Regions from separate parts of the Homo sapiens genome. Here all the other regions are linked to region 1. Evidence: fine-mapped expression QTL. A gene starts in region 1. Each other region holds a variant in brackets. All regions are shown on one strand. Distances are from middle to middle. Region 1 holds the start of MCM4 (minichromosome maintenance complex component 4). Region 2 overlaps UBE2V2 (ubiquitin conjugating enzyme E2 V2). Region 3 overlaps PRKDC (protein kinase, DNA-activated, catalytic subunit).

The links. PIP is the estimated chance that this variant, and not a neighbour inherited with it, causes the effect. A credible set is the group of variants that fine-mapping cannot tell apart.
Region 2: its variant is the best candidate, but not a certain one, in a credible set for the expression of MCM4 in whole blood (INTERVAL, PIP 0.67).
Region 3: its variant is the best candidate, but not a certain one, in a credible set for the expression of MCM4 in whole blood (INTERVAL, PIP 0.79).

The regions. Positions count from the first base shown.
Region 1 is chr8:47,958,954-47,963,233 of GRCh38, forward strand. MCM4 (minichromosome maintenance complex component 4) reads left to right here and starts at 1,988. Exons shown (of 17, transcript NM_182746.3): 1 at 1,988-2,061; 2 at 2,178-2,261; 3 at 2,563-2,727; 4 at 3,100-3,263; 5 at 3,352-3,453; 6 at 3,811-3,906; 7 at 3,992-4,087. The coding sequence starts at 2,192. PRKDC (protein kinase, DNA-activated, catalytic subunit) reads right to left here and starts at 1,183. Exons shown (of 86, transcript NM_006904.7): 1 at 1,020-1,183. The coding sequence starts at 1,173. RefSeq lists an enhancer at 652-811 and silencers at 992-1,041, 1,052-1,351, 2,022-2,421.
Region 2 is chr8:48,015,559-48,019,838 of GRCh38, forward strand. All of the region lies in intron 1 of UBE2V2 (ubiquitin conjugating enzyme E2 V2), which reads left to right. Among named protein-coding and RNA genes, the nearest start is that of UBE2V2, 9.3 kb to the left of the region's middle. The variant C/A (reference allele first, on the strand shown) is at 1,647.
Region 3 is chr8:47,880,962-47,884,961 of GRCh38, forward strand. PRKDC (protein kinase, DNA-activated, catalytic subunit) reads right to left here. Exons shown (of 86, transcript NM_006904.7): 37 at 951-1,136; 38 at 455-559. Among named protein-coding and RNA genes, the nearest start is that of PRKDC, 77 kb to the right of the region's middle. The variant T/C (reference allele first, on the strand shown) is at 1,904.

The DNA of each region.
Region 1 (4,280 bases):
TCCATCTCCTGACCTCAGGTGATCCAGCTGCCACAGCCTCCCAAAGTGCTGGGATTACAGGCATGAGCCACCGCACCGTGCCACATATAGCATCTAGTTTAAACTGTTTAAGTTATTCCTACACCATATTCACTACTAGACCCTCCGGAAGAAAATCTCACCTTTTAATAGGGCACAACATCAAGGTCTGCATACTCGTGTTTTAAAGAAGGAATACAGGAGATCCACATAATTAAGTATTTGAATATTTAAAATGCTAAAAAGAGGCACTTTTACTACAAAGGGGAAAAAGTTCCCACCCAGGCATTGCTAAAGAGTTAAAAGAACATGACTTCAATTACATTTCTTCAATTTTTCTCAAAGTAGGAACGGCAAATAGAGGGGTTTGGAAAAGGTACTGGTGGGATTAGGCGAGATTCAGGTGAAAGAAAATACTTTCTCTTGGCCGGGCCCGGTGGCTCACGTCTGTAATCCCAGCACTTTGGGAGGCCGAGGCGGGGGGATCACGAGGTCAGGAGTTCGAGACCAGCCTGACCAACATGGTGAAACCCCATCTCTACTAAAAATACAAAAAAATTAGCCGGGCGTGGTGGCGCGCGCCTGTAATCCCAGCTACTCGGGGGGCTGAGGCAGGAGAATAGCTTGAACCCGGGAGGCGGAGGTTGCAGTGAGCCGAGATCGCGCCACTTCACTCCAGCCTGGGCGACAGAGCGAGACTCCGTCTCAAAAAAAAAAAAAATTATTTCTCTTGCCCTGCCCCCCACTCTGCATAGCAATGATTGCCATATTAGGGGTCGTTTTCACCAACTTTGGCTTTAAAATATCTTTCCTCTAATACTAGGGGGTAAAAAGCAGTATGACAAATCCCTTTATACACATACACAGAAATTCCCCCAAGAATCTAATTGCTGTACTTCAAAATACCGTCATCTAAACACAGAGAAGCGCCGGGCTGCCCGGCTCCAGAACGACTCGGGAAGCCAGGACCCACCCGCGGCCCAGCTCGGGCCGGTACCCACCCAGCACCGCGGGGCTGCTGCTCAGGACGCATTCCTGCCCCAGGCCGCGGATCAGTTGATGACCGGCCAGGGCAGCACCGCAGCGGTCCGCAGCGGACAAGGTCTCCTGCAGCCGCAGCAGGGAGCAACGCACACCGGCTCCGGAGCCCGCCATGCCGCCGAGTCCCGCTCCCGCGCGTGCGCCCGCTCGGCCCGGACCCGGAAATGCCCCTACGCGCGGAGGCGGGGCTGCGGGGCGCGGCGGCAGGAACTTTCCCGGGGACCCCTGCGGGAAGGCCTGGCCAGTAAGCGCGCCTCTTTGGCCCGAATCAACATGGAAACCTAAGGAAAAACGTCTGACCTGCGGAGGTAGTTTGGGTGGCTACTTGGTGTTGGACTTGGCTAAATAAATACCAGAGGCAGATAAAACAAGCGAGGGGCCTAGGTCAAGAGTTCCAAGTTTGTTCCTCGATAAAAAACGACAAACGCGGTCGGGGGCGGTGATGCCCGCCTGCAGTCCCAACACTTTAGGAAGCTGAGGCGGGGGGATCGCAGGAGTTCGAGACCAGTCTGGGCAACATAATGAGACCATCCCCACCACCTCCCGTCCTTAATTTTTTTTAATAAAAAAAATCTTTAAGTGAGAAATGCATCTGTAATGTCCTTATTAACCAAAAACGCCTAAGGGATAAAGAAGCACACGCTCCCTAGCCAACGCTAGAGGAACACACCCCGAGAGCTGGTGCTGTAGGACCCAGTTTTCCCGCGAAAACGCTGCCGCGCAGGGGGTCAGACCATCTGGACCAAGGGGGGCCGAGCGAGGCCTACTTCTGGTTTACGCACGGGCGCTGAAAGAAGCGGCACTGTCCCCCCCTGCCGATGCGCAGTGGCGCCTCCCGGAGGCGGAGCCACGTACGAGCGCCGCTGTGATTGGTGAGGCCCCGCCAGGGGCGGAGACGACCTTGCCGCCGGCGGGAACTCTGGGTCTCGCGGTTTGGGAGCGCTACTCGCCAGGTGGACTCGGAGTCCGCGAGCGTCGTCGGCAAGCGGCCGCCTTTCCACGGTAACCGCGCGCCGGCGGGGAGGGCGTGGCGCGGAGCCGACGGGAACGTCCGCGCTGCGGAGCAGGGCAGGGAAGCCGGGAGGCGGGCCCGGCCCGAGCTTGTCCTTGTCGCGCAGGTACTCCGAGCACTATGTCGTCCCCGGCGTCGACCCCGAGCCGCCGCGGCAGCCGGCGTGGAAGGGCCACCCCCGCCCAGACGCGTGAGTCCCCCGAGCCGGGCCCACTACAGCCCCCGGCGCCGCCCCGTCTGCCCTCTCGCCGCAGCTGGCAGCGCTGGGTGGGTGCGCGGGACCCGGGCGCTCAGCCTCGGGCTGGGCGCTGCCGCTTGGTGCGCACAGACACCCACAGCAGGCTGTGGCCTGGGTGCTGCTTAATTCGATTGCCATTTGCCTCTGTTTGGTTTGGTTCAGTGGTGAGTCATAATGCCCCAAGGAAAAGACAAATCCAGGAAGGCCGGCCCTGAAAGTTAATGGCTGTCTTTTCTGTTTTGTGTGACACAAGCTCGGAGTGAGGATGCCAGGTCATCTCCCTCTCAGAGACGTAGAGGCGAGGATTCCACCTCCACGGGGGAGTTGCAGCCGATGCCAACCTCGCCTGGAGTGGACCTGCAGAGCCCTGCTGCGCAGGACGTGCTGTTTTCCAGCCCTCCCCAAATGCATTCTTCAGGTGCGTGTCTGAAGATCTTGGTTTTGCTGTGCTTGATACACAGCTGATGCTTTATCTGCTCAGGTTTACTGGCTTTATAACAGTTGGCATAACGCCTAAAGCATCCCCTCTGCACGTGACTGAGCATGTTCTTAACCAGAGGAGCTGAACGGAGTGCAGAAAATAGTAGTTTTAGGGCTTAGTGAGCAGAGGAAGCAGCTTCTCTGGTGCTTTTTTTTAATAGAACATTTAAGAGTGCTCAGAATCTCAGCCACCGCAGGTTGCAATAAATATTCAGTTTGCTGTTGCGATTAGATGGTATAGATCAACAGACAACATGCTGTAATTTCAGGTTTGATATGCCACCAGAATTTCCTAATTTTGTTTTTATAGCTATCCCTCTTGACTTTGATGTTAGTTCACCACTGACATACGGCACTCCCAGCTCTCGGGTAGAGGGAACCCCAAGAAGTGGTGTTAGGGGCACACCTGTGAGACAGAGGCCTGACCTGGGCTCTGCACAGAAGGGCCTGCAAGTGGATCTGCAGTCTGACGGGGTGAGTATGCAGTCTCCTGAAACCATCTTATGGCGGGTATCATGTGGGTAACTCTGTTTTCATGATTCTGTCATGTTTTTCTGTGTAGGCAGCAGCAGAAGATATAGTGGCAAGTGAGCAGTCTCTAGGCCAAAAACTTGTGATCTGGGGAACAGATGTAAATGTGGCAGCATGCAAAGAAAACTTTCAGGTGAGCTACATGTATTAAAATTCTTACTTTGGGCTCTGAAAATGTTGGGAGACCGTGTTTATAATCTATATCTAAGTAGCCATAATGACTAGAAGGGCCACCTGTGGTGGCTCACACCTATAATCCCAGTACTTTGGGAGGCCAAGGTGGGAGGATCACTTGAGGCCAGGAGTTTGATAGCAGCCTGACCAATATAGTGAGACTCCATCTCCAAATTAAATTTTAGAAAAGAAAAAGGAAGAAAAATATTATTTATTTCTGTCTCCTGATAGTGACATACTCATAACTTTGTGTGTTTTTAGTAGTTGCCTGTTCCCAAATGCTATATGCCTAATACAGTTTTCTCTCCACTTAAAGAGATTTCTTCAGCGTTTTATTGACCCTCTGGCTAAAGAAGAAGAAAATGTTGGCATAGATATTACTGAACCTCTATACATGCAACGACTTGGGGAGGTAATCAAATACTCTTTAAATTCAAGTTACGTGTTTTAAAATAGTTAAATTAGCAAAATATAACTTGTTCATTTTTATTTTCTAGATTAATGTTATTGGTGAGCCATTTTTAAATGTGAACTGTGAACACATCAAATCATTTGACAAAAATTTGTACAGACAACTCATCTCTTACCCACAGGTAAGAATTTAGCTTTGACCTTGATGAATTTTAGTAACAGTCTAGAAAGAATGTTTCCAGATAACAGAAATTCTTCAGTAATGAAGATAGTATGCGCAAACACTTTAAGAAACTGAGTATCATCTCCTTTGGCCCGGTGTGGTGGCTCACACCTATAATCCCAGCACTTTAGGACGCCGAGGCAAATGGATCA
Region 2 (4,280 bases), 57 kb after region 1:
ACCATGCTATACAGTAGTGCTCTTAAACTTGTTCCTCCTGACTGTAATTACGTATCCTTTGTCTAACATCTTCCCAATCCCCACCCCCGTAACCCCAACCATCCTAACCTCTGGTAACCACCATCTCCTGTCTACTTCTGTGAGATCAATTTTGACTCCATATATGAGTGAGATAATATGTATTTGTCTTTCTGTGCCTGTGTTATTTCAGTTAACATAATGTTCTCCAGGTTCATCCATGTTGTTGGAAATGAGAGAATTTCCTTCTTTTTTATGATTGGAACAGTGTCCCACTGTATACGTATACCACATGTTCTTTATCCATTTGTCTGTGTGGTTTTTTTTTTTTTTTTTTTTGAGACGGAGTCTCACTCTGTCACCCAGGCTGGAGTGCAGTGGCGCGTTCTCAGCTCACTGCAACCTCCACCTCCTGGGTTCAAGCAATTCTCCTGCCTCAGGCTCCCTAGTAGCTGGGATTACTGGCACCCGCCGCCAAGCCCGGCTAATTTTTGTATTTTAGTAGAGATGGGGTTTCACCATATTGGCCAGGTTGGTCTCAAACTCCTGACCTCAAGCAATCCATCTGCCTCGGCCTCCCAAAGTATGGGGATTACAGGCGTGAGCCACCGCGCTCAGCCTATCCATTTGTTGGTTGATGGATACTTAGGTTGATTCTATATCTTGCATATTTTGAGTAGTGCTGCAATAAAATGGGAGTGCAGGCCTCTCTTTGACATACTGATTTTATTTTCTTTGGCTATATATGCAGTAGCAGGATTACTGGATCATACGGTAGCTCTGTTTTTAGGTTTTTGAGGAACTCCATACTCTTCTTTCTCCATATGGTTGTACTAATTCACATTCCCACCAACAGCATGCTTAGATTATCCTTTATCACCACATACTCACCAACACTTGTTATCTGTCATCTTTTTTTTTTTGAGACGGAGTTTGGCTCTTGTTGCCCAGGCTGGAGTGCAATGGCATGATCTCGGCTCATTGCAACCTCCACCTCCTGGGTTCAAGCAATTCTCCTGCCTCAGCCTCCCGAGTAGCTGGGATTACAGCCACGCACCACCATGCCTGGCTAATTTTGTATTTTTATTAGAGACGGGGTTTCTCCATGTTGGTGAGGCTGCTCTCGAACTCCCAACCTCAGGTGATCTTCCCACCTTGGCCTCCCAAGGTACTGGGATTACAGGCGTGAGCCGCCGTGCCCAGCCTTTTTTTTTTTTTTTTTTTAATTGAGACAGAGTCTCGCTCTGTCGCCTAGGCTGGAGTGCAGTGGCGAGATGTCAGTTGACTGCAACCTCCACCTCCAGGTTCAAGCGATTCTCCTGTCTTAGCCTCCCGAGTAGCTGGGATTACAGGCACCCGCCACCATGCCTGGCTAATTTTCATATTGTTAGTAGAGACATGATTTCACCATGTTGGCCAGGCTAGGCTGGTCTCAAACGCCCGACCTCAGGTGATCCACCTGCCTTGGCCTCCCAAAGTGCTGGGATTACAGGCGTGAGCCACTGCGCTTGGCCTCATCTTTCATCCTTTTGATTATAGCCATTTTAATGGGAGTGAGGTGATACCTCATGTGGGTTTTTTTTTGCATTTCTTTGATGATTAGTGATGTTGAGAATTTTTTTCATATA[C/A]CTCTTGGCCATTTGTATGTCTTTTGAGAAATGTCTATTCAGATCTTTTACCCATTTTTACATGAGGTTATTTTCTTGGTATTGAATGGAGTTCCTTATATATTTTGGTTATTAACCCCTTATCAGATATATAGTTTACGAGTATAGTGAACCATTCTGTATGTTCTCTCTCTCTTTTTTTTTTTTTTGGTGGAGTTTCGCTCTTGTTGCCCAGGCTGGAGTGCAATGGCACGATCTCAGCTCACTGCAAGCTCTGCCTCCTGGGTTCAAGGGATTCTCCTGCTTCAGCCTCCTAAGTAGCTGGGATTACAGGCATGTGCCACCATGCACTGCTAATTTTGTATTTTTAGTAGAGACGGGATTTCTCCATGTTGGTCAGGCTGGTAATAAACTCCCGACCTCAGGTGGTCTGCCTGCCTCAGCCTCCCAAAGTGCTAGGATTACAGGCGAGAGCCACCGCGCCTGCCAGTTCTCTCTTTATTGTTTCCTTTGCAGTGCAGGAGATTTTTAGTTTTATGTGATCCAAATTGTCTGTTTTTGCTTTTGTTGAGTGTGCTTTTGAGGTCATATCCTCCAAAAATCATTGCCCAGACCAATGCCATTGACTTTTCTTCCTGTTTTCTAGTAGTTTCATAGATTGCCTTTTTTTTTTTTTTTTTCCTGAGACAGTCTCAACCTGTCACCCAGGCTGGAGTGCAGTGGCATAGTCACGGCTCGCTGCAGCCTCAACTTCCCAGGCTCTCACCTCAGCCTCCCGAGTAGCTGGGACTACAGGTGCACGCCACCATACCTGGCTAATGTTTTGTATTTTTAGTAGAGATGGGGTTTCGCCATGTTGGCCAGGCTGGTCTCGAACTCCTGACCTCAGGTGATCCACACGCCTCGGCCTCCCAAAGTGCTGGGATTACAGGTGTGAGCCACCATGCCCAGCTGCACAATGCCCAATTTTGCCACTTCTGTTCAACATAATACTGGAAGTCCTAGAAAGAGCAATAAGACAAGAGAAAGAAATACAAGGCATCTTAATTGGAAAAGAAGTTAAACTGTTCCTGTTTGCAGAAGACATATGATGTCAGTGTTTATTGTTATAAAAACTTCTGTCTTAAAACTGCTTTTGCTGTATTCCATAGGCTTTGTATGCTGTGTGTTTCAGTTTTCATTTTTTTCAATAAACTTCCTAATTTGTTTTTTAATATCTTCATTGACCTATTGGTTGTTCAAGAGCATGTGTTTAACTTCCATGTTTTTGTGAATTTTCTGAAGATCCTCCTGTTAATGATTTCTAGTTTTATACCATTGTGGTCAGAAAAGATATTTGATATGATTTCCATCTTCTTAAATTTGTTAAGACTTATTTTGTGGCTTGACATATGATCTATCCTTGAGAATGTTCCATGTGCAGCTTAAAATAATGTATTATGCCACTGTTGAATGGTATGTTCTGTGTATGTCTTTTAGGTCCATTTGTTCTATAGTGTAGCTTAAGTCTCATGTTTCCTTGTTGGCTTTCTGTCTGCATGATCTGTGCATTGCTAATTGTGAGGTGTGAAAATCTCCTACTGTTACTGTAGTACAACCTATCTTTCAGATCTATTAATATTTGCTTTATATATTTAGGTGCTTTGATGTTGGGTGCATATATATTTACAATTATTCTCTTGCTAAATTGACCCCTTTGTTATTACATAATGACCTTCTCTATCTTTTTTTTACAGTTTTTGATTTAAAAATCTATTTTATTGGGGGCCAGGCATAGTGGCTCATGCCTGTAATCCCAGCACTTTGGGAGGCCGAGGCGGGCGGATCACTTGAGATCAGGAGTTCAAGACCAACCTGGCCAACATGGCGAAATCCCATCTCTATTAAAAATACAAAAATTGGACCAGGAGCGGTGGCTCACACCTGTAATCCCAGCACTTTGAGAGGCCAAGGCAGGTGGAGCACGAGGTTGGGAGTTCAAGACCAGCCTGGCCAAAATGGTGAAACCCCATCTCTACTAAAAATACAAAAATTAGCCAGGTGTGGTGGCGGGCGCCTGTGACCCCAGCTACTTGGGAGGCTGAGGCAGAGAATTGCTTGAACCTGGGAGGCAGAGGTTGCAGTAAGCCGAGATCACGGCACTGCACTCCAGCCTGGGTGACAGAACAAGACTCCTGCTCAAAACAAAACAAACAAAAATTGGGCGTGGTGGTGGGCTCCTGTAGTACCAGCTACTCGGGAGGCTGAGGCAGGAGAATCGTGTGAACCTGGGAGTCGGGAGATTGCAGTGAGCCTTGATTGCGCCACTGCCCTCCAGCCTGGGCAACAGAGCGAGACTGTCTCAAAAAAACGGCAGGGCATGGTGGCTCATGCCTGTAATCCCAGCACTTTGGGAGGCTGAGGCTGGCGGATCATGAGGTTAGGAGTTTGAGAACAGCCTGACCAACATGGTGAAACCCCGTCTCTACTAAAAATACAAAAATTAGCCAGGCGTGGTGGCACATGCCTGTAATCCCAGCTACTCAGGAGGCTGAGGCAGGAGAATCACGTGAACCTGGGAGGTGGAGGCTGCAGTGAGCCGAGATTGCGCCACTGCACTTCAGCCTGGGTGACAGAGCTAGACTCCGTTTCAAAAAAAAAAATTAGCCAGGCATG
Region 3 (4,000 bases), 78 kb before region 1:
ACTTGAACCCAAGAGGCGGAGGTTGCAGTGAGCCATGATTGTGCCACTGTACTTCAGCCTGGGTGACAGAGCGAGACTGTCTAAAAAAAAAAAAAAAAAAGAAAGCAAGAAAGCAAGAAAGCAAGAAAGCAAGCAAGCAAGCAAGAAAGAAAGAAATGTTCTCATGTCTTGGAGAGGCACACTGAACTGAAGCAGATACAGGTCAGATAACACACCCGGCCTGCTTGGCCTTCCTTGCCTGCTGACGGGTGGGTTGACCGCACAGGTGAAACAAACACACCCACACAGGATGGTTATCGAGACTGGCTAATAAGTACGGGGGATTACTGTGCTAGTCTCCCTACATTTGAACACGTTTGAAATTTTCCATAATAAAAAATAAAAAACATCACAAATAAAAAATACGAAAACAGAAGAGAATGTAATCCAAAAAAATAAATATTTCACTGTTTACCTTTAAATGTAGATCCAGCTTTGTGTCAGCAAGTAGACTAATATATGTTGTAAAGACTTCAGGGAATGAACCATGACTTGTATTAAAAGATACAGATGAATCAATCTAAAGGAAGGAAAAGAAAAACAGGACACATTTGTATATTACATCTCTATTTCCTTTAGCCCATTGCTCAAATGTTTAAATTCCAGAAATGAATTGTTAATTTAATTTTGGGCTTCAATAATATTTTCACAATCTTATTGTAAAACATTGTAATACTATCTGTTAGGACAATACATGCAAAGGTACTTTAAAAAGATATAGCATAAGAAATAGTAAGTCTAATAAATAATGGAAAAAGTTTAAAAAGGTAAATATAAGCAACCATCCTGTCAAAATATTTTCTTATTTGTCAAACCAATGAGCTTTTGGAGCAACCTCCATCAAATTTTAAAGACACAAGTTACAGAGTTCAGAAGAATAAACATGACTGCTTTTTAAAGGAATTGAATACCTGTAAAATTTTTGCCAGTAAGGCCAGCACTGCCATTTTAGTTTCGAGAGGGGAATCTTTGGCCCACCATGAATCACACTTCTTCCAGTGTTGCAGAATTGTAGTCGCAAGTTTCAGTCCTTGGTGTTTCTGGTTTGCTCGCTCCCTGAAGCTCTGGTCTAACATGCCGTTCAAAACGGCACTCACCTGAGACAATTTCGTTGTGAGTGAAGAAAAATTCTTAATTTTGAGAATGACAGAAAACAAAATTTACCTTTATTTCAAAGCTATTCTTGGAAAATAAATAAGCTATTTCTATAATAGATGTTTATCTACTTCAAAACTCCTCGAGTTTGATTTGAGGTACACTTTAACCATAGTTTTTCCACAAAGTACAGGGTGGCCTTAGCTATGTCATCAGGCTCATCCAGCTTCTCCTGGCTTTCCTAGTCTGCGCAGTCTAGGAAAAAGGAGTCAGCTCTCTTCTGTCACCACCACCACCACTGTACATGCATGCACAAGCACACACAGGTGTACACGCACAAGCACACAAATATGCACATATGCACAAATGCACACTTCCTATCCCACCACCACTGTACATGCATGCACAAGCACACAGATGTACACACATAAGCAAACATGCACCCAAGCACATACTTCCGGTCCCACCACCACCATACAGGCACACACTAGCACACACAGGTGTACACACACAAGCAAACATGCACACACGCAAACGCACACTTCTTGTTCAACTACCATCATACATGCACACCCACATTTTCTGTCTCACCACCACTCCTGCAACAGAGTGACAGGCTAATTTTGGTCAGATTAACATGCACTATTCCTGTCATTCTGACTATGCAAACATTTTTCACAGATGTTCCAAGTAGAAACAATGCTTTTCCCTTTTTGCACATTTTGTACTCTCTGAAGCTAACCTTGTTTGCTTTCATTGCTCTTTTCAA[T/C]GTGTCTGTCATTAATTCGTCATCAAACTCTCCCAAGTTATGAAATTGCTGCAAGCCCTCTAAGCCTATCAGGTCTATCTGCCCCATTTCTGTGGCAACTCAGCTCTTGATCTGCAATGCTGGTGCTGGACCTGGTGCTGGGCCATCCACGCCTCTGTGCGGGGCCGACATACTGTATCCAGCACCTTCCCCTGTCTTGGCTCACTGCCTGATCACTCTCTACCCAGCAGCATCGTGATGAGAGTGCACAGGGACCTCTTGGGGATCTGGCATGTCTAAAACATCTGTATTCCACTCTCACATAATGGATAATCCAGCTGGATTCAGAACTCTAGGCTGAAGATTTCTCTTATGAACTATGGAAGAAATCTGGTTCAAGTCTTGCAATGTCCACACTGCCGCTGAGAAGACATATGTCATTCAATTTCTAGATCCTTTCACACATAACTGCTTTTTCTCCAGTGGAAACCTGAGAATCTTTTATTGTAGTGAAACCCCACGGTTCTGAATTCTCAAGAAATGTGCTCCACGTGGAGCTGTTTCTGTGCACCATGCTGGACACTCCATGGCCCTCTTCTACCTGGAAACTCAAAGCCTTTGCTTCTGGGCTCCTCTGGAGCTGTGTCCTCAGCAAATGCCACTCCTGACCCCTGCCCTCCGGAGCCAAGGCCCTGCTGCTCAACCTCATGCATGAATCCCTAGTCTCCTCCTCTTTTCTCTCGTGTTTTCTGTTTTGTCTTTCACTCTACTCTCTGTGAGAGTTACTCAAGTTTACCTTCCAAACTCATTTCATTTTTAATTTCTGATGCCTATGCTTAATTCCCAAGAGCCTTTTTTGTTCTCTGATGTTCATTCTCCATAGCAATTCTTATTTCACAGTTTTGTCTCTCATCTTTCAGTTTTTTTTCTCCAGCTTACATTTCCATCTCACTGAACAGGCCTTGCCACAGTTGCCTGTGTCCCGCTACGCCCTCTGGCGTCCCTTTCCTCAGGTGCCTGAGCCCCTGGGCTGCCGGCTCACAGGTATCACCTGCCTGGAAGCGCTGTGCAGCGTGCAGGGCTCGCTGGTGGGGAGGATCACTGTCACTGACCCAGCTGGCTATGATGCCTGCATCTTTATTTTCTCTTAGGGCTTGTCAGGATATTCTGGTGCCCTGCCAAGGGCAGATGCTGAACTGAAAGTATTCAGAGGGAAAGGGCAGACAGCCTGAAAGTCTAGAATTTAGGTAGGTTAGTACTTAACTTTCCTCTTTTCCTGATGGTATCCACATATTCAGCCATGCCAGAGCCCCCAGTCTGGAGGTCTCTATCCTCTCCAGGGAGTCACTGCCTCCTGCCTTCTCCTCAAGTGGGGAGGATCAGACCCCCAGCAGCAGAGACAGGAGGCTGCCCTGCAGGGGAGAGCTGGCCTTTGCCCAATCCTCTCTTCTCAGCCTCTGCTCACCCCTGCTCGCATGTCTGCCCTGCTGGGGCTCAGCACGTGTGGACCCCAACTTCCGAAGGCTGCATCACCTCGCTGCTATCTCAAACTCTGCATGCAGTCTGCCACACCTGTCCTTTTGATTTACAACTCTTGTCACTCTTGGAAGTCCTTTTCTCTGTGTCCTTTGAGATTGTAGAGGTGTTTTAAAAATCTCATTCTGTTACTTTAGAGGAATTTAGGGAAGGAATAGAGGTCAAAGGCGTATGTTTTTTCTATCATTTCCATCAGAGGTCATAGTTTAAGAAATCAGAATGTTAAATCTGAGTGTCATCTACTACGATTTTATTTCTAATTTTAAAGAATACAAATTCCTACTGCAATCTACCACAAAAGATTCCCCTACAACAGAAAAGCACTGTTTGCAATAAAAGCTCAACTTAGGACATCATGTACTCTCCCTTAAAATGGTCATATCAACAGTTAACAGTTTCTGTCCACAGAACAAGTTAAATTTCAAAATCCCAGAGGTTTAGCAAACGAAAGTCAACTATATATTAAATACTGATCTCCAGGGAGAAAGGGGGACACAGCAGGAACATGCCAGAAATGATAACTCAGCATCGAGGCCACAAGAGAACTCTGAGAACAGAGAGGTCTACCGGGGTGCAGAGACC